Homo sapiens: one gene and its partner. The protein of the gene in region 1 purifies or fractionates together with the protein of each later gene. This does not show direct contact. Each region holds a gene or a part of one and is shown in the gene's direction. Other genes may lie near its edges.

Region 1 (11,069 bases):
ACATTTGTCTGGATTACCCACATTCACAGACGCGTTAAGACAGGAGTGCAGGTGCTGCTATGTTATGGGAACCCCTTAGTCAAAAAACACAAAAATCCAATGGTCTTTTCCCAGGGCTTATCTTTACTTGAGCTAAATTCTCCCCATGGTCTTCTGTAACACACACTTAGCCTCTCCAGGAATGGTGTAGTACACAGAATAAACTGGAGTCAAGCTGGTTTTGAATGCTGGTTCTTTTTACTGCTTTTTGAGTCTACAAAGCCAGTCTATCAAGTGAGGCTAAAATTGGCTACCTTGGAAATGGAAAGGAATAAATGAGATAGTAAATGTAGAGCAGCTGCCATACAGTTTAACAGATGCTCAATAAATGCTGATTTGCTTTCCTCCTTCGCTTCTCCTTCTCTGTCCTTCAGTACTTTTCTCAATATTCTCTCTCACTGGTTTCCTTCACTCTCATGGCTTTATTACCCTTCTATGGATGGGTAACTTCTAATTTTCTATCACCAATTCTGACCTTTTTTCAGAGTACCAAACCTTAGCTTTTGTGTGTTTAATAATTCTACCTTGATATTCTGGCATCATCTTAAACTCAATCCATACAAAATTTCTCTTTCTACAAAAAACTTGAAGGCAGTGGGGGTAAGGTGAGAGAGTCACAGGAGTTGGAGTGAGGAGCCACAAGTTCTTTTTTTTTGTCCACATCATGGGATTTTTTTTTATAAGTTCACTGGTTTTTAGTCTATGTTCTATCTACTCTAATCACCTGAACATGTTTCCTAGCTTAATTTCATGTTTTTCGTCTGTGATGGAGTGATAAAATGAACATTTTCTGTTTATAACTTTTTGCAAGCTTAAAAAATGCCATATAAAATTGCTATTGACATCTGATTCAACATGGTGGGATGAGGGAAGGAGTTAAGGATGAGATTTTGAGCCTGAGTTCTGCAGTGTCTTTTGCACCTGTCTCGCCTTTCCTTCACCATTGTCATTCCCCAGAATTCAGGCCTACCTTATCTTTCACATTTGTGATGCATTTACAGAAAAATTGGCTCAGTCAGGGAAGTAATAGTTGGTAGTGTGTATCCAGCATTGCTCACGAGTTTTAAAAATAACCATGAAATATATAATATACATACTGAAAGTACATTTTTCTCCAAAAAACCTACTTCTCATTAAGTCATAGAGTGCTAACACTCATGTAATCCCAGTGTCTTAGAATGTTCGGCTTATTTGGCTCACGGTTTTGCAGGCTGTACAAGAAGCATGGTAGCAGTATCTGCTTCCAGTGAGGGCTTCAGGCTGCTCACGGTGGAAGGCAGACAGGAGATGACATATGCAGAGATCACATGGCGAGAGAAAGGAGAGAGGAGGTGCCAGTCTCTTAATGAACTCACTCCTTACAGAATACGAAGCCACTCATGAGAAATCCACTCCCACAACCCTTCCCACCAGGCCTCACCTCCAACACTGGGGATGAAATTTTAACATGAGACTTGGTAGGGTCAGACAAACCAAACTCAAGCCATAGCACCCTACTTAGGAACAGAACATCAACAGCACTCCAGAAGCACCTATTACCTCCCAAGCACTACTCCCTGCAAAGCTAACTATTTCTTTTCTTTATACTTTTACTACCTAAACATATATCCCTAAATCTAGATTGGTTTGCCTGTTTGTTGAACTTCCCATTTTCCAAAGTGGTTATACCAATATACATTTCCAGCAGCTGTGTAGTTTCAGTTACTCCAACTCTTGACCAACATCTGGCATTTTCTGGGTTTTCCATTTTAGCCATTCTGTTGGATGTGAGATTAAAATATCATTTAGGTTTTAATTTGCATTTCTCTAATGATTAAATTAGTTGAGTATCTTTTACATGTTTATCGGCCATCTACACGCCCCTTTTATATTTTTTAAGAAACTAATATTTAGATACCCTTTTTTGTGAGGTGACTGTTTAAGTTTCTACCTTTTTTTTTTTTTTTTTTTTTGAGATGGAGTCTTGCTTTGTCGCCCAGGCTGGAGTGCAGTGGCACGATCTTGGCTCACTGCAACTTCTGCCTCCTGGGTTCAAGCAATTCTCCTGTCTCAGCCTCCCGAGTAGTTGTGATTACAGGTACGTGCCACTACGTCTGGCTAATTTTTATATTTTTAGTAGAGACAGGGTTTTGTCATGTTGGCCAGGCTGGTCTTGAACTTCTGACCTCAAGTGATCTGCCTGCCTGGGCCTCCTAAAGTGCTTGGATTACAGGTGTTAGCCACTGCCTGGCCTCTACCCATTTTTTTATTGGATGTCTTCTTTTTTATTGATTTGTGGGAGTCTACAAATTCAAGATAGCAGCAAAGAGATGTATTTCTATTGTAGACATGAATGCATTTGGCTGGGTGTGGTGGATTACATCTGTAATCCCAGCACTTTGGGAGGCTGAGGTGGGAGGATCACTTGAGCTCAGGAGTTTGAGAATAGCCTGGGCAACGTGGCAAAACACAGTCTCTACAAAACATACAAAAATGAGCTGGGCGTGGTGGTGTGCACCTGTAGTCCCAGCTACTCAGGAGGCTGAGGTGGGAGGATCGCTTGAGCCCAGGTTGAGGCTGCAGTGAGCTGAGATCACATCACGGCCTTCCAGCCTGCATGGGCGACAAGGTGAGACCTTATTCCCTCCACCTCCCCAAAAGATGAAATGAATTCATTTGTTTGATGCTATTAGAATACCAGTAACTCCCCTTACTTTGGCCCCAAATTCACAAATGAACCCTCCAAAAGGTAATGCAGTTAACTTCATGCATTCTCTTTAAACAATGTACTGAGTCTTTATGCCAGGGAATTTGGAATTAACAGATACAGTACAGGTCTCTCATTTCAAAGTAGTATTCCTAATCATGAAGGAAATGAGAGACCTGTACTGGAATCCTGTCTTTAACACCTTTGAGGATGGTGAATTTAGGTAAGTTATTCAACCTATTTTAGCCTCGGTTTCTTCATTGGAAAAATGGGGCAAACAATACTTATTTTACAGAGTTGTGAGGATTAAATGAGACAATATATATAATATGCTTTGCACAGTGGCTGGCATACAGGAAACGTTTAATATATGGTAGCTACTATAAACTCGGTTATTTCCGTGTAGCTTTCCATGTCTACATGGAGGGAGAAAATGAGCAGATGTCCATTATAATTTAGCTATTACAGTTTTCACTCTAAAGTAAAAAAGGCATTTAGATTTATATGTCTTCTGGGAGTTTGGTTCTTCTGACTCCCTTCATCTGTGAGACCATAGGTACTTTTATGTAATATGATAAAAATTATTAGAAAAAGAAAAAAACGGCCGGGTGCAGTGGCTCACACCTGTAATCCCAGCGCTTTGGGAGGCCAAGGCAGGTAGATCACCTGAGGTTGGGAGTTCGAGACCAGCCTGACCAACATGGAGAAACCCGTCTCTACTAAAAATACAAAATTAGCAGGGTATGGTGGTGCATGCTTGTAATCCCAGCTACTTGGGAGGCTGAGGTAGGAGTATCGCTTCAACTCAGGAGGCAGAGGTTGCGGTGAGCCAAGATCGCACCATTGCACTCCAGCCTGGGCAATAAGAGCGAAACTCTGTCTCAAAAAAGAAAAAAATAAACTAAAAAGGAAAAAAGGGCCGGGCACGGTGGCTTACGCCTGTAATCCCAGCACTTTGGGAGGCTGAGGCAGGCGGATCACAAGGTCAGGCAATGAAGACCATCCTGGCCAACATGGTGAAACCCCGTCTCTACTGAAAATACAAAAATTAGCTGGATGTGGTGGTGCACACCTGTAATCCCAGCTATTTGGGAGGCTGAGGCAGGAGAATCGCTTGAACCCAGGAGGCAGAGGTTGCAGTGAGCCGAGACTGCACCACTGCACTCCAGCCTGGCGACAGAAAAAGACTCCCATCTCGAACACAAAAAACAAACAAAAAAAGGGAAATAAAGAATATGCAAAGTACAATCCCTCAAATTTTTATTAGACCCACAGAAATAAAATTAGTCTGTTAAACTGCTATAAGTTTCTAAATTCTTACTTTCTGTAAATGCCTTGACATGGATGTGTAACAAAGGGCTTACAGACTGGCACTGCCTTGTGGACCACACTTTTGGTGAGACTGCTCTAGAGCGCTGACAAAAATCAGACTTTGAATCCACAGGGCTGAAGTCAAAGCAACTGAAGGGTGTCCTGACTCACCAGCTGGCCACCTAGTGGCCTCCTTCTAGTCATAAGCACAACCTTGTGTCACTCCTTAGTTCAAAAACCATCCATTATTCTGCCTGACTCAAGGGTAAAATCTCAGTCCTTTAATCTGACATCCAAGGCCTTCCAGAGCTGGTTCTAAACAACTTTTTAAGTCTGACTTTCCACTATCCTCTACTTCACTAGACTGCATTGTCCAATATGGTAATAACTTGTCCCACTTGAAATGCAGAAGTGAAATGAGGCTAATTTAGGAACTGAATTCATAATCCTAACTTTAATTTAAAATAAAATTTAAAAATATACACGATTCGATTACCGTAAAACTTTTAAGTATGCTTGGAACGACTTGGGTACGTGAATCTATTTTTTCAGCTGGAAATTTTATGAAATCAAGTACTGAGATATGCTATAAGTATAAAATACACACCAGATTTCAAATGCTTAGTTATGAGAAAGATAATGTAAAATATTTTTAATATTTAGTAATTTTTTATGTTGATCACATGTGAAATAATATTTGGATATGCTAGGGGTTAAAAGTGTAATTAAAATTAATTCCACCTAGACAACATGCCCCAAACCTAGGCATCACTATTGATTCCTCCCTTTCCTCATTTAATTGGTAAGCAAGATAGGTCAGCTTTTTGGATCCATCCACTTCCCTCATCTCTACTGCTACTATCCTAGTCCATGATACTCCATTTCTTTTTTTTTTTTTTTTTTTTTTGAGACGGAGTCTCGCTCTGTCGCCCAGGCTGGAGTGCAGTGGCACGATCTCGGCTCACTGCAAGCCCTGCCTCCTGGGTTCACGCCATTATCCTGCCTCAGCCTCCCGAGTAGCTGGGACTACAGGCGCCCGCCACCACGCCTGGCTAATTTTTAAAAAAATTTTTTATTTTGAATAGAGACGGGGTTTCACCATGTTAGCCAGGATGGTCTCCATCTCCTGACCTCTTGATCCTCCCACCTCGGCCTCCCAAAGTGCTGGGATTACAGGCGTGAGCCACCGCGCCCGGCCAGATACTCCATTTCTTAAATCCTTCAATGGCTTCCAGTGCACTTCACCTTCTTATTGAGGCTGAAGACTTCACCTCCTATCATTCCTTCTTTTGGTCACTAGATTTCGGATACACTGACCTTGCTATTCCCTAAACACAACAAATTTTTCACCTTAGGGCCTTTGCCCAGCTATTCCCTTTGGTCTCACACTGTTCTTGTCCTTTCTAATACCTTCTCAGTGAGGCCATCTCTGATCAACCAACCACCAAAAGTTTGCTCTCTTTTCCCCAGAGTAACACTTTATCCAATCAGCTTTTAATTTTCCTCACAAACTCTTTTTTTTTGAGGCGGAGTCTCGTTCAGTCGCCCAGGCTGGAGTGCAGTGGCGCAATCTCGGCTCACTGCAGCCTCCGTGTCCTGGGTTCAAGCTACTCTCCTGCCTCAGCCTCCGGAGTAGCTGGAATTACAGGAGCGTGCCACCATGCCCAGCTAATTTTTTTCAGTAGAGACGGGGTTTTGCCATGTTGGCCAGGCTGCTCTTTAACTCCTGAACTCAGGAGATCCACCCACCTCGGCCTCCCAAACTGCTGGGATTACTGGCATGAGCCACTGCACCCAGCCTTCTTCACGAATTTATGGGATATTCTCTCTCCTCTTATTTTTAAAACTTGTTTATATGCTGTTTCCCTCTAAAAAACAGGAGTAGGAACCATTTGTTTTGCTGCTGCTTTACCTATTTCAGTGTGTAGAACAGTACCAGGCACAGAGTAGGTGCTCTTCCAACAGTGTTGAATGAATATCTAATTGCACACTACACATATATGACTGGTTGGCTCACATGCACTTCAAATTTTACATGGTCAAAACAAAGACTTCTTCCTTCCCTAACATATATTCTCTTATTTTGTTTCTAATCTCAGTGAAGACATTACTATCCTCCTAGCTGCTCCACCAACTCACTTGGGAGTCACCTGACATCTATCTCCCTCAGTCATTTTCAGTTAACCAAATCTCCCAATAACCACTTTATTTTCTTCACACCTACCTGCTACCAACTCAGTCCAAGTCATTACTGGCTCACAGCCTACTGTTTACTCCAAACTCTTCTGTTTGCCTCAAATTTTTGTGTAACAGTGATCTGTCTAAAATGAATTCAATCCTATGATTCTTCTACTTAAAATCTTTCAATATCTTCTTCCTGGTTCTCAGAAGCTGACTTCTGCACATAGCATTCAAGGCCTTCACAAGTAGACCTCCAGCATTGTCTTCTTTACCCAACAATCTCTCTAGTGTTTGCCTCCAAACATCTGTACTTACTGCTTCTCATCTAGAAAGTCTTCCATAATACCCTTATTAAAGCTAATTGCTTCTCTAGTCCCATTCCATTTTATTCCTCCCTCTTGGTTTAGTAAGGGGTTCCTCCTTTATTTGATTCCACAGTATTAAGTAGCTTCACTCTCATCATACTGATGATGCCTATTTACTTGTCTACATTCTACAGCCTAAGATTAATGGGGGCAACGATTCTGTAACAATTAGCTGAATGTTCACTCAAATAAACAATGCTCATTCAAATAATGCTACAGAAAAACATCAGAATTTGGCAAATTTCTATTAACTGAAGAAATGAAAATATTAAATCAAAAGAAAACACAGCCTATGGTTCCTATGCTTTTTTTCTATTTTAGGCACAATGCTTTAATAAATTACACAAAGACTACAAACCTTTATTACATCAATTGTTACAAAAGGCTAAGTGGAGAAAGATTACTTATCTGAAGCTGCACAAAATCAGTGGGCAATATGGATTTCATTTAAGCTTGTCAATTCTCCTGGATTAAATTCTTGGCGCTGTCTCACATATTCCCAAGTCCTACATGTAGGATGCTAAAAGTTGCAGTTACTAGGTTGGGAAAGCCATGCCCAGACGCCCCTGTGAAAAACATATCAATATATTAAGTTCCTTAGCAAATCACATCTAGATTAAGTTCATAATGCTTTTTTTTTTTTTAACTTTGCAAATCTCCAAACTTTTGCTACTTTCTTAATAAAATACAACAAAATTTTTGGCATTCCAGCCACGGAAAAACAGATCTCTACCTCTGAGGTGGCAGTAATCCAAGCAGTTACTAGGATCTACGAAACATGAGGCATAATTAGAATGTTGGGGAAAAAATCTACAGAAATATCTATATCTTCGTCATGAACCTGACTGTTGAGTTTATGAAAAAGTGGAAAAGGAACCTCACTCGTTCCTTCCCTGGTACCTTCACAGCGTCTCCCGTCCCAGTCTGCCTAGTTGAATCTAGGGACACTTAAAGGTAAATCCTAGCCTCTTGGCTGTCCTTCCGTCTCCCAGGATTCTGCTAGGCCGCACAGTTGGCAAGCTTAAAACTCCAAAGATTCCGCACTCTCCGTCTTTCAACAGTCATGTCACAGAGACACGAAGGTTAGCACAGGAACATTAGTTTCCAAACTCCTACCCACCGCAGAACAGGCGGGAAGGTTCGGTGGCCACCCGGCCTCTCCGCCGCGCACATGGCCGTCCGCAGCTCCCACCCCCGCTGCCGCGCAGGCGCCGGGCGAGCCGGGACTTGCGGTCGCCGAGAGCGGATCATTCCGCCGCTTTCTTTGTGTGGCTGAAGCGCTAGAAATGGCATATTTTCTTTCCCTTCGTTAAAAAATCAGACCCTCTTTCCCCTCTCTCCCCGCGGGAACACAGCTAGGGAGTGGGTAGGAGCAGGATCTGCCGACGAGGGCAGAGGCGGAAAATCCTCGGGCGATGAGCTGAAGAGGGCCGGGTCCGGGAGGGATGCTGGGAGCTTGACTCACTCGCACACCATGTGTCCCTCCGCGCGCAGCACGGGGGACTTTTCGGTGGGGATTTTGGGCGCCGACCAGACGCGGCATTTTCGGAAAATAGCGCCCTGTGCAGCTGAAGCGCTTTGTGTGTAGCGGGGCCGCGTCAGCCCGGCCGGGTACGAGGCGCCTCGGGTCCCCGCACCACCTCCTGCTGCCTTCCCGTCGCCGCTCCCGAAGCTTTTCCAGGTCAGTGCGGGTCTGTGTAGGGCCCTGTTACCACCGGATGTGGAAGTTGATCTCTTCGCTGGTAAAAAATAATTCCACTTCCCCCGGAACCCAGATCATCCCCGCGATTTCCTGTTTATTGCATTAAGGCGCCGGGTTTCCGGGGCTCCTGGCCCCGCTTATTCCGCGGGGGTCGGCGGGGTCGGCCTGGGCGCCCGCGCCGCCGCTGCGCTTTGTCCGCTGGGCACACTGCTTCTGGGAGGGGCGGGCAGACATGGTGGCGGCCGCCGCCCCCTCCTCGGCCCTAGCATGCCGCGGCCGCCTCGCGGCTACCCGGCTTGCCGGTCCCGAGCGGCAGCCCCGGGGTGGCGATGGGGTCGCGCCGAGGCAGCGGAGGTTCTGCGGGCGACTGGAGGTTGGCAGTGGGCGGGAGAAAGAGGAAGGCAGGCGCGGCTGGGCCTCGGCCTCTGGCGCCGCGGTACCCTTTGTCTCGGCAGCCTGACGGCCCCGCCGGGCTCTCCGGAGAGGGGAACGGGCGGCGAGGGTGGCGGGTCCTGGGCGCCCTGTGCTGCGGGGCCGAGAGGCGCTCGGGTCGCGGCGGGATCGGCCGGACCAGACAGGGTTAATGGAAGAGCCTGGCCAGTCCCGCGCGGGGCCCCCGCAGCGACAGCCTTGGCCGCGGGGACTGGAGTCCTGAGGGGGAGAAGCCTGCCGTTCTGAAGGCTCGGGACTTCTGCCCCAAAGACTTCGCCGCCGAGAACTGCGGGTGCACTGCCTCAGGGAAGAAGTTGAGAATTTTGCCAGGTCATCTCTGCCAGGGCACAGTTCATCACTGTGTGTTTAGTGTGTTTCGGTGAAGCTCTCCAAGTGTGTTGAATCAGCGTGCCTAGCCTCAAGGGTGCATCGTGAAAACTGAAACCAAAGGAATGATACAGGCCTGCTTTGTGTGTGTCTTCCCACTTTAAGCTTGTTTTCAGTACAAATACTCTTGCTTTAAACCTGATTGGACTGTGGCGAGCGGACATCTGTTCAAAGGAGGGGCCGAGACCACAGTACTTCTGAAGGGGGCTTGATAATGTGGAAACATTTTAAGTTTTCTCTCCGGACTGTTTTGCTCTCTCAATTCAGGCAAGTTACTGAAGTACGTTTTTTATCTAGAAAAAGGTTTGATGTAGTCTGTAAATGGTCCTTGTAAAGTACATTGCCATCTCAGAATTAAAAGATCCACTCTCATTTATTATGCAGAAGTTAGTGGTCATTCTTTCCTGTAGATAGTTTATCTCATGTAAAGACCCACCCAGCTTGGTTTAAATTTTTTTCTCACTGACGTATAACCATCAGCTTTGATACTTCCATTTTCAGGCTCAGACTTTGAATTTAAGGAAACTAAAGATGACTTTATTTTCTTTTCTCTTGGTTTTTTTTTTCCAAAAACAAAAAATAAATCCATTACATGTTAACATAGATGATAAGAGTGACATCTTGCATTTTTGCAAATCTTTTTAATGCCTGGTTTAATAGAAGATTCTCAGATCTACGTCAGACTGTTGTGGTTAGCACACCATGTAACCTCTGGAACACTCCACTGTACACTCATACTTTTTTAAAAAAAAAACCAAAAAACAGAAATGTGTCATTCTTACCGTGCTTTCACCATACAAGTCAAATCAAGCTGTTATGCAAGACACATTTTAACAAGACTGAATAAGATTGATTCCCATACTTTTTTTACTGGGCTCTAACTTTTTTAAAAGTTGGAATTTAGGTGACTAAACAAAATCACAGATGAAGACTGCATAATCTGCCTATGATCTCGGAGACTCAGGAACATTCGAAGATATTCTTAAGTGATTAAAACATTTAATTCTATTACATATTTATAATGATTTACACAAGTAACACGTGAATTCCACATATGCTATCAACACTTGTGTAAATGTTATCTTTAAAGATAGAACATGTTGAAAATTATAGGAGGTACAGATTTTACAGAAAATTAATTCTGCAGTGAATCCTTTGGTGAAACGAACAGTTTGCAGAGACATATCCTTAGAGTTCTTTGTCTCTCTGAATCATTCTGGGTTTTCTAGGTTGGGAGACAATTATACTTATTGGGAGACAATTATACTTAATTGATTAATGCATAAAAATTTAAGGCCGTATTTTAATGGCTTTGAAAGGAAGCTAAGTTTGTTTCCAGTTGTTTCTGTGAACTGTAGTCTGAATCTGTCAGTCTATAGTTCTCTACTGTTCCATCAACAGGAAGCATCTGGTCATTCTTCGTGTAATTGTTAGAAAATACCAGGTGTACTTTTAATGTTTGCTGTTCAAACGAAAATAGATTGGATCTTGGTTAAGTTCACTTGGTTTGGCCAGGCACAGTGGCTCACGCCTGCAGTCCCAGCACTTGGGGAGGTGGAGGCGGGCCGATCACCTGAGGTCAAGAGTTTGAGACCAGCCTGGCTAACGCGGTGAAACCCCATTTCTACTAAAAATACAAAAAATTAGCTGGGCGTGGTGGTGCGCGCTTGTAATCCCAGCTACTCGGGAGGCTGAGGCAGGAGAATCGCTTGAGCCAGAGAGGCAAAGGTTGCAATAAGCCAAGATAGCGCCATTGCATTCCAGCTTGGGCAACAGGAGCGAAACTCTGTCTCAAAAAAAAAAAAAAAAGTATGCTTGGTTTTAGTGTGTTTTTTCCCATAACATTGTGTCATTGTAATGGACCACATCTCCTGTACCATGAATTTTTTTTTACTTTTTTCTTTTGCCCCTCAGTACCAGAAATATTAACAGGTAACAGGTAAAGTGCACGTCATGAGGAATTCAG
Region 2 (10,466 bases), on another chromosome or scaffold:
AGGTGATGCCCATTGTTTCCAGGGCCATCCCAGTTTGGAGGTTCCTGTTTCTAGAGGAGGTTCCCTTGTGACCCCCTCATTTCCACACCCGAGCAATGCTGAGGGCTGTGGGGCCCCCAGGGGCTTGAGTGTGGTTTATGGCACAGCAGGGACTGATCACAGTGGCACCGGGTGTCAGTGGCCAGTGGTCAGTGGCCAGGAACCCTCAGGACCCTCCTCCTTGTGTGGGTGGCATTTACCCACCCACAGGTCACGCTCAGGACCCGCATCTCATTCCGATCCTCCTTGTGTGGGTGGTACTTACCCACCCACAGGTCACGCTCAGGACCCCACATCTCATTCTGAAGGCCGGGCACAGGCGGTTGTTTTCTCTCCAACTTCGGTTTCCCCATCCCCACTCTTAGGGCACAAATGCAGGTGTAGCTTCCCCATGCCCACTCTTTAGGCACAAATGCAGGTGTAGCTTCCCCATCCCCACTCTTAGGGCACAAATGCAGGTGCAGCTTCCCCATCCCCACTCTTAGGGCACAAATGCAGGTGCAGCTTCCCCATCCCCACTCTTTAGGCACAAATGCAGGTGCAGCTTTCCCATCCCCACTCTTAGGGCACAAATGCAGGTGCAGCTTTCCCATCCCCACTCTTAGGGCACAAATGCAGGTGCAGCTTCCCCATCCCCACTCTTAGGGCACAAATGCAGGTGCAGCTTCCCCATCCCCACTCTTAGGGCACAAATGCAGGTGCAGCTTCCCCATCCCCACTCTTTAGGCACAAATGCAGGTGCAGCTTCCCCATCCCCACTCTTTAGGCACAAATGCAGGTGCAGCTTCCCCATCCCCACTCTTAGGGCACAAATGCAGGTGCAGCTTCCCCATCCCCACTCTTTAGGCACAAATGCAGGTGCAGCTTCCCCATCCCCACTCTTTAGGCACAAATGCAGGTGCAGCTTTCCCATCCCCACTCTTAGGGCACAAATGCAGGTGCAGCTTCCCCATCCCCACTCTTTAGGCACAAATGCAGGTGCAGCTTCCCCATCCCCACTCTTAGGGCACAAATGCAGGTGCAGCTTCCCCATCCCCACTCTTAGGGCACAAATGCAGGTGCAGCTTCCCCATCCCCACTCTTTAGGCACAAATGCAGGTGCAGCTTCCCCATCCCCACTCTTAGGGCACAAATGCAGGTGCAGCTTCCCCATCCCCACTCTTTAGGCACAAATGCAGGTGCAGCTTCCCCATCCCCACTCTTAGGGCACAAATGCAGGTGCAGCTTCCCCATCCCCACTCTTTAGGCACAAATGCAGGTGCTGTGAGCGCTTTAGAATCCTCTGCTGCAGGTGACTTTGCTTCAGCGAACCACAGAATGTTCACATGGTTTTATGCATTTGTTATTTCAGGGAAAATCAAGGTTAAAGATGTCTTCAGAATTTGTATTTTTGGGCTGGGCACGGTGGCTCACACCTGTAATCCCAACACTTTTGGAGGCTGAGGCAGGCGGATCACGAGGTCAGGAGATCGAGACCATCCTGGCTAACACGGTGAAACTCCGTCTGTACCAAAAATACAAAAAAATTAGCCGGATGTGGTGGCGGGCGCCTGTAGTCCCAGCTACTCGGGAGGCTGAGGCAGGAGAATGGCGTGCACCCGTGAGGCAGAGCTTGCAGTGAGCCGAGATGGTGCTGCTGCACTCCAGCCTGGGCTACAGAGCAAGACTCTGTCTCAAAAAAAAAAAAAAAAGAATTTGTGTTTTTGAAACTAAATATAGCAGGTCATTAGTTACTTATAACTGGTGTTTTATTAATAAAAGAAGAAAAAATTTAAAAACAGCCATGATTCCAGCTGCACGGAGCCTGGATGGGAAAGTGCATCCTCTGGGCTGAGCACGGTGGCTCACACCTGTCATCCGAGCGGGCTGGGCGCAGTGGCTCACACCTGTCATCCCAGCACTGCGGGAGGCCGAGGCGGGTGGATCACCTGAGGTCAGGAGTTCAAGACCAGCCTGGCCAACATGGTGAAACGCTATCTGTACTAAAAAGACAAATTTAGCAGGGCGTGGTGGTGGGTGCCTGTAATCCCAGCTACTTGGGACGCTGAGGCAGGAGAATCTCTTGAACCCGGAGGCGGAGGTTGTAGTGAGCTGAAATTGCACCACTGCCCCCCAGCCTGAGTGACAGAGCGAGACTTTGTCTCAAAAAAAAAAAAAAGAAAGAAAGTGCATCCTCTGGTAGGCCTTGGGCCGGGGGCGGGCATGAGAGAGCTGCGCTGGGATGCGCTGCCAGGGCACACTTGGTGGGTCACACACTCTTGTCAACTGTTTGGGGGCTGGAGAGTAGTAGCACTCAGCTCACACGGGCCTTCTGCAGGGAGTGGTGGGAGGGCCTGTGAGTAAGGGCTCCGGAAGGCCCATCATTGGGACCTGGTGCCGCCAGTGGGAGCAGGAGGAGCCTGTGCCTTCTCTGGCGCCAGTCATCCCAGATGCCACTCAGGGCTTGGCTGGGTTTGCCAGCTCTCCAGGTTGGCACTGGTAACGCCAAGATGGTCCTGGGAGCCCATCTCCATTCAGCCTCGAGTTCCCTGGCTTCACTGAGGGAGGAGCCGTGATAAGGTGGCTGTGGGTTCGCATTTTGGACTTTGTTATGTCAGAGTCTGCTGTGTTTTGTGTTTATGGTGGCAGCTGGATGAGGGCCAGCGACTTCAGGTGTTGACTGTCATGGTGGGCCCAACAGTATCCCTGCAGCCACAGCATCCTGCCTGCTGCCCTTTGCCTGTCCTGCAGACGCCAAGGCCCTAGAGCTTTGCTTTGATGGGATGTACCCATGTGGGTGGACACTGGAGGGAGCTGGAGGGGATAGAAGCGGGGCCTTCACTAGGGGCCAGGACAGACCCTTGCACTGTGAAAAGAGGCCTGGGAATGGAACTGTCCGATGTTCTGAAGGCACACGGGGCCCCGCCGTCTGGAGCAGGGGCACCTTGCGGGCTGCATGGCCACTCTGTGACGCTCGTTCCCCACAGACGTGGTTGAGCTTGCATTTTCTCCCCTCAGCACAGTCTCATTTGGGAAGAGGAAAGGGAAACTTGCACGCATGGGCCGGTCAGGGCACTGAGAGGCCTTTCTGCTCTGGCACTGCCTGCCAGGCGTGCACCTCAGGGGGCCCGTCCGCTCTAGCAGGCAAATGGGGCGTGTTCTCTGTAGTCAGAGGGGCTGTGAGAAGACAGGAAAGCGAGCTTAGTGGGTATCAGGCAAGGGGGTGAAATTGGGTTGTGAGATGAGAAAGCAGCGTCATTGCAGGGCTGGGGGGCCGAGACTCGGCAGGGTCGCCGAGAGCTCAGTGAGCGAGCAATGCACAGGCGGCTCCTCGCCGCAGGGGCCTCTGGGGGCCGAGGGGCTCTGGGCCTGCACCCCCTCTGTAGACACCTGGCGAGTGTCCACCCCTTGGCCCAGCTCCTTTCCTCAGTTTTCCTCGGGCGTGCTCCCAGTGCTTTGTTTGCTTGGCTGTGGGTGGTGACCCGCCCATGCTGTCTGGTTGATTTAACTGGTGTGTCTTCCAGCTACAAGAAGACTCAGGAAACTCTTTCACAGGCAGGACAGAAGACTTCAGCTGCCCTGTCCACAGTGGGCTCTGCCATCAGCAGGAAGCTTGGAGACATGAGGTGAGACGCAACCCTGACTCTGCTGCCCTGAGACCTGGCCAGGAGTGAGGTGAGGTGTTGGAGGTGCTACAGGAAGCCTGCCTGGAGATCAGGGCTCAGATGCACTGGCTCAGGGATGTGGCCATCCATCATGGCCCCGACCAGTCTGTGTGCAGACCCTTGCCTGGGAGGTTCGTCCATCCCCGTTGGCTGCTTTTCTGCCGTTGCTGTGTTCTTCAGGGAGGGTTGGCTGCCAGTGCTGTTGGGTAACTTGTGGTGCTCGGGGTTGGTGAGGGAGGAGTCTGCACCTTGAAGCTTCACTGAGTGGCAGCGACTCCAGCCCAGGGGTCAGAGTCAGGTCAGTGTGGGACGGCAGTCCTCCACCATCTCTAGGACAGGGGCTCGGCGTGGTACTTCCTCAGGCTGTTTCCCAGGTCTCAGAAAGTGCAGTCAGACGCCAGGAGGCCCTGAATGAGCCTTCTCTCCCAGAGGCTGGTGAAAGCCTCCTGGCCATCAGAGGTCCCTCAGCAAGCAGGGCTGGGGCCAAGGAGTGAGCAGGGGGCCGGCGCTTTGTGGCTGGCATGTTTGCTCTTCCTTCCCTGTTCTAGGCTCCCTGACTACAGCATGGTGATGAGGGGATTGAGCCAGAAGCCTGGGTATGATGCTTGGCTGGGCTACCTCCTGGCTGGGCACCCCAGCTGGGCCTCAGGCACGCCTTCTTTCACAGGGGTTGTAGGAGTGGATGATATAGGTTGTCACCATCAACAGCATCCTGGCCCCAACTTCTGGGTGCTGCTGCCCACCCTGCCCTGACCCCTTTCCCATTCTCAGAACTGGTCTTCTGGCTTTTGGATCTCAGGGAGTGCCTCCCTGTAGCTCTGACCCAATCCTGGCAAAGATGGGTGCAGGCTTCCTAAAGGACCGGTGTGTGGAGCACAGTGCTGACCCCACCCAGCCCTCCCCTCTTCCCCTCTTGTGGCCCCTGCAGGATTCAGAGATACGTACATCTCCTGCTGGGCTGCCTGCCTGCCTGCCTGCCTGCCTCCCTGCCTGCCTGCCTTAGGTTAGGTGTGTCCTGCCTCCCCGCCTGTGGTTGCCAGGTGGGGGTCGTCCTGCGCCAGTGCTTTCCCCTGACCACTAAGCCACAGGCCAGGACACAGACGGCCACACACACCCAGGGACCCACCCTGCCAAGCAGAGGGGATGGCCACTGCCCAGGAGCTGTGCCCACTTTTATTTTTGTTTTTTTGAGGTAATCTACCTTCCCATCCCTGCAACTTCTATTTCGAGAAGTTTTAAACCTCTGGAGAAGCTGCAGTCATCAGTATGCAATGTGTGTGTTTCCTCTGTGCACCCTCACACGCCCAAGGCTCCACACTCCCCAGCAGCTGTGACTTGGGGGGGTCCTTGTGGGGCACCCTACAAATGCAGGTCTTCCCTACCACTGCTGAGCTTTGGACCCAGGAGGGACCCCCTGAGTTTCAGCTGAACTCAGCCTCGCAGGGCTGTTTTCTTCCCGAAAATGCTGGTCTCACCACAGAGCATCTTCAGGAAGTAACAGGTGTTTGTTGTGCCTAAATTATGCCGGCCATCAGGAGGCGTTTGCCCACTCTTAGTGTCCACACTCCCTTTTGAGTTTGTTCAGACCATTGTGGTGGAAATCCAAGGGGCACGTGGAGCCCTTGGCACTGATTGGAATAGCCGTGCACAAGCCAGTCCTAGGGTTTTGATCTGGGCATTTGTTTGTATGGCCTGTTTTTCTCTGGAAGCACAGGGACACGGTCCTGGTTCTCTGTCTGCTCCTCCTTCTCTGATGGGGAGAAAGGCTTTCGCTCTCTGCTCAGTCCTGGGGTTGGCAGCTGACCCGTGTCGTGTAGCCTCAGGGCATGGCTGGCAGTGAGCAGAGTTCCTGTTGCAGTGACGCTGGCACAGCTGTCAGTGTGCCCAGCCACACTGTGCCACGTGTTTGCACGTGTGCCCTGGTACATGGGGCCAGCTGGGGGAGCGGGGCCTCAGGCTGACCTGGGACGAGCCAGCTCGCTCCAGTTGGCTGGCCGTGTTCACGGTGCCCGTGGAGGGTCCTGTTTGCTGGTGTGTCTTGCCCTGCTTGCTCCTCCATTTATGTTTGTAGTGGTGGTGGGAACTCTGACGTCTGGAGCCCCTGGTGTATCCCCATCATCTCCCCAAGCAGTCACAGGTGGTTTCTGAGGTCTGGGCCCATTCACCTCGAGTTAGAGACTGAGGTTGAGAGCTCACTACTTCCTGAAAGTGAAAATTGGGTTCTGGGAGGTTTATGTCATGAGTTTAGGGCTGGATGAACCCCGGCGGACCCCTGCTAACTCTTGGGCGGAAGCCCCTCTGGACAGCTGCCCAACGCCCGTGTCCATGATGGGCCTGTCCCAGGGCAGCCCCGGTCTGTGAGGCCTTTGGTGTGCCCTGGGGCATGGGTGATGGGGATGGGAGGAAGGGAACTGGATTCAGGTCAGAGTGGGGGTTTACAGCAGGGTCAGGTCACCGTCTGACTCCGTGGTCTCAGATGAGGCATCGGCCCTCTCAGGACCTCGGGCGAGTTGAGTGTTTCTCAGTTCTTCAGTGGCTCCCTCCATGTCAGAGTGGGCCTGGCTGCAGTGAGTGGCAGCAGCTGCCCTTGGACACACAGGTTTCCAGGTTGGCGTCTGTGGGCACGGATGGAGCGCAGAGCAGAAATGCTCGGCGCCAAGGGTGTCCCACATCCTCCCACGGTGCGTGTGCTCCCTCAGCTGACGTGATTTGGGGAACACGGGCCGCTCTCGTTCTGTGGAGCTGGCCAAGCCCAGCTGTCATGCTGTGGCACATTTCACACCTTTGCGCTGCTGGATGGGGCTGGTTGTGCTCCAGGTGCTGTGGCTTCTCCAAACAGGTGTGCCTTGGGGCATAAGGCGTGGACAGGGCGTGGACCCAGGGGCCTCTTGGGCACAGCCGTGAGGCTGAGCAGTTGCTAGTCATGATCTTGCGAGAGCCTCCTGTTGAGTCAGGACTTGAGGAGACTGGAGACAGTGCTGCTGTCCCCGGTGGTGTGCGGACTGGAGGAGCCGTCCTGGAGGGTCTTCCCCTGCTGGGCCTGACTGAGCACGAGCAGGGGGCCTCCCCTGGGGCTCCCCGAGGAGGGCTGTGAGTGGGTGCTGGCCTCCCTTGCTTACACTTCGTTTCCTCTTCTCTCCTGCTGCCACCTTCCAGGGCTCATCCATTTTCACACTCCTTTAGGTAAGGCTGAGCCTGGACACACCTGTGGAAGACTTTTCTCTGAATTGGGGCAGGGTGGACTCCGGCAGGGCCCTTGGGCGGCTGTGCTAGTAGAGGGCAGTGAAAGTGGGATCACCCCTTCCAGGACAGCAGTGCCAGCCAGGTGGTTGCTGCATCTCAGGGAACAAAGCAGCAGCGTGGGATCGACGCAGAGGCCCCCCGGAACCCCCCGGCCCTTCTGTGTCCCCTCCTCGTGCTTCCCTTCAGGCTCACAGACCGCCTGCTGCCGGGTCTGTGAATAACTGGCCTGGCGTCCAGGCCTGAGTTTACTCCTGAAAAGGAGCTTTTTTTTTTTTTTAGACGGAGTCTTGCTCTGTCGCCCAGGTTGGAGTGCCGTGGCGCGATCTCGGCTCACTGCAAGCTCCGCCTCCCGGGTTCACGCCATTCTCCTGCCTCAGCCTCTCCGAGTAGCTGGGACTACAGGCGCCCGCCGCCACGCCCGGCTAATTTTTTGTATTTTTAGTAGAGACGGGGTTTCACCGTGGTCTCGATCTCCCGACCTCGTGATCCGCCCGCCTCGGCCTCCCAAAGTGCTGGGATTACAAGCGTGAGCCACCGCGCCCGGCCTTTTTTTTCTTTTTTTTGTTGGAGTCTCGCTCTATCACCAGGCTGGAGCACAGTGGTGTGATCTCGGCTCACTGCAACCTCCAGCTCCCTGGTTCAAGCGGTTCTCCTGCCTCAGGCTCCTGAGTAGCTGGGATTACAGGCATGAGCCACCACGCCTGGCTAATTTTTGTATTTTTAGTAGAGACGGGGTTTCACCATGTTGGCCAGCATGGTCTCGATCTCCTGACCTCGTGATCCACCCGCCTTGGCCTCCCAAAGTGCTGGGATTACAGGCGTGAGCCACTGCGCCGGGCCCTCAAAGGAGCCTTTTCACGTGGGAGGGCTGTGCCGACTCTCACCACCTTCCTGTTCAACATCTGTCCTGTTTCCTTGTTTTCCTTCAGATGGAGTTTTGTCTTGTTTACTACCCGAGAGCCCATAGGTGTGCCTCCCAAAGGGCCCTCCTGCAGACCAGAGCAAGCTCCTCTAGGCCAAGCCGGGGCGCCGCCAGCACGTGCCCTTCTGCTGGAACCGGGAGGTCTAGAGCCAGGCCCAGAACAATCTGTGATTTCTTGTGTTTTTACTTGACTTGGTGGTTTCTCTTTTGCCAAAAGGTCCTTACTTGACTTCTGAAGGCTGTTTGTACCAAATACTTTTCAAAAGCCCAAGCCTGGTCTCCTCACAGCTTCCTATGGCAGTGCTCTCCCCCCTCCCAGTGCTATGCGCTGGGCAACTTGGGGTGCCCCCCATGAGGCCAAGGGAGGACCCTGGGGTCGAGTTTCCTTCGGGGGCATTGTGTGGAGGGGCAGGCAGCTCGCTCCAACTGCTGGGAGTGGGGGAATCCCAGCTCTGCCCATCCCTGCCAAGTTGGGGTTGTGTGTGGATCTTGGTGTTAACTCTTGCTTCCTTCTCTGCTTCTGCCATGCTTCCAAGCAGCAGCTACTCCATCCGCCACTCAATAAGTATGCCAGCCATGAGGTAATGTATGCCTGCTCGCTGCGGCTCCAGAGCCGGGTGTCTCTGGTGGGGGTTGGGGCAGCTCCCGCCGGTTACACCTTGCCCTTCCCATATTCCTGGATTAATTGAGGACTCCATTCCCTTGGCAACCTCTGATGACTAAGGGCCGGTAAAAACCCCCTCTAGGCTGACGAGGAAGAGCTGGTAGGGGGTCAGGCTCTTCACCTGCAGCCTCCAGAGGAGATCCTTGTGTCAAACTGGGCCGTGTCCTTTCCAAGTCCTGACCCTGGCTGCCTGCAGTGGGTGGGGTGGGGTTCGAGGGGCTCGCACACAGATCCTGGCACTTGCCCTGGTGGGCTGTCACTCAGGACACTTCACGGTCTCAGCCTTCACGGAAACACCCAGAGCTGTGGTCCTTATTCTGTGCCTGTCAGGCACCACCCTGATTCTCAGGATTCTGTGCCTGTGCCGTGAGGCACTGCCCTGATTCTCAGGAGAGCCCAGAACTGTGGTCCCTATTCTGTGCCTGCGCCGTCAGGCACCGCCCTGATTCTCAGGAGAGCCCTGTTCTCCTTGTGGGGACTCTGGCTGGGTGTCGCAGACGTGCTGGCCTCTAGAGTCCCCGGGCCTGGGAGGGGTATCTGTTTGTGTGGGAGGGACTGAGTGGGATGGAGCTGGCCTGCTTTCTCCTCTTGTCTCCTTATCACTCTGCTGTCCCAGAAGTGTCCTTGGTCTTCCGTTTGCTTCTCTGAGAGATGTGCATGAAGAACTGCACAGACTTTTCATAACTTCAGTACGAGAGCCCAGGGTGTCCCTGTAGGGGACAGCAGAGAGGGGCCGACAGCCCCCCAACTGCGCAGACTTTTCATAACCTCAGTACGAGAGCCCAGGGTGTCCCTGTAGGGGATAGCAGAGAGGGGCCGACAGCCCCCCAACTGCACAGACTTTTCATAACCTCAATACGAGAGCCCGGGGTATCCCTGTAGGGGACAGCAGAGAGGGGCCGACAGCCCCCCAACTGCGCAGACTTTTCATAACCTCAGTACGAGAGCCCAGGGTGTCCCTGTAGGGGATAGCAGAGAGGGGCCGACAGCCCCCCAACTGCACAGACTTTTCATAACCTCAGTACGAGAGCCCGGGGTATCCCTGTAGGGGACAGCAGAGAGGGGCCGACAGCCCCCCAACTGCGCAGACTTTTCATAACCTCAGTACGAGAGCCCGGGGTGTCCCTGTAGGGGACAGCAGAGAGGGGCCGACAGCCCCCCAACTGCACAGACTTTTCATAACCTCAGTACGAGAGCCCGGGATGTCCCTGTAGGGTATGACAGAGAGGGGCCGACATCTCCCCAGCTGCACAGTCAAGGGGTTTCCAGTTGCCTTGTGTGACGTCTGGACCTGTCCCTGTGGTTGTTGGGCATGGCCGACCTCACTTTTGACCTGGGGAGTCTCCGGAATGACCTGGCTGTCTCACAGTTTTGCCATGAGATCTTGGGATGTTGTTAGGGACCCTTTGGAGGCTGGCCCTAACCCTGAGGCCCTTCCGAGTTAGGAGAGCAGCACAACCCTCTCCTCTTGACACCGACACTCTTCCCTCTCTCTTTAAAGGAACTCTGCGACCTTCAAGTCGTTTGAGGACCGAGTTGGGACCATAAAGGTAATTGTACCTGGACTGTTTGATGGTCTTGGCAAGGTGTGACCTGTTACAGCAACTTGTTTATTATTAGTCATTTAGTTATGGTAGACTCACATACAGTTGTGGGAAGTAATGCAGAGAGGTTCCTTGTGCCTTTTACACAGTTCTCTCCTGTGACGACATCTTGGAAAATCCTGTAGTGCAGCCTCCCCACCAGGACATTGGCACTGACTCAGGACACAGAACGCCTCCACACTGCCCTTCCTGGTCCCCACTGCCCTTCCTGGTCCCCACTGCCCTTCCTGGTACCTTCTTGGCCATGCTGACCTTCCTCCCGCCCTACCCCCGGCAACCCCTAGTCCACTCTCCCTTTGTATAATTGTGTCATTTCAAGAATGTCACGTAAATGGAACGATACAGTGTGC

What was found.
Region 2: the proteins of GABPB1 (region 1) and TPD52L2 purify together in Homo sapiens (affinity purification with mass spectrometry; 3 studies listed by BioGRID and IntAct, with this or other methods). This does not show direct contact.

What each region holds. Positions count from the first base shown.
Region 1 is NC_000015.10:50,352,179-50,363,247, reverse strand, and holds the start of GABPB1 (GA-binding protein subunit beta-1 isoform beta 2), read left to right. Parts: upstream 1-8,049; 5' UTR 8,050-8,263; exon of another isoform or gene 8,264-11,069.
Region 2 is NC_000020.11:63,879,177-63,889,642, forward strand, and holds part of TPD52L2 (tumor protein D54), read left to right. Parts: intron 1-3,542; coding exon 3,543-3,644; intron 3,645-6,839; coding exon of another isoform or gene 6,840-6,866; intron 6,867-8,387; coding exon of another isoform or gene 8,388-8,429; intron 8,430-10,013; coding exon 10,014-10,062; intron 10,063-10,466.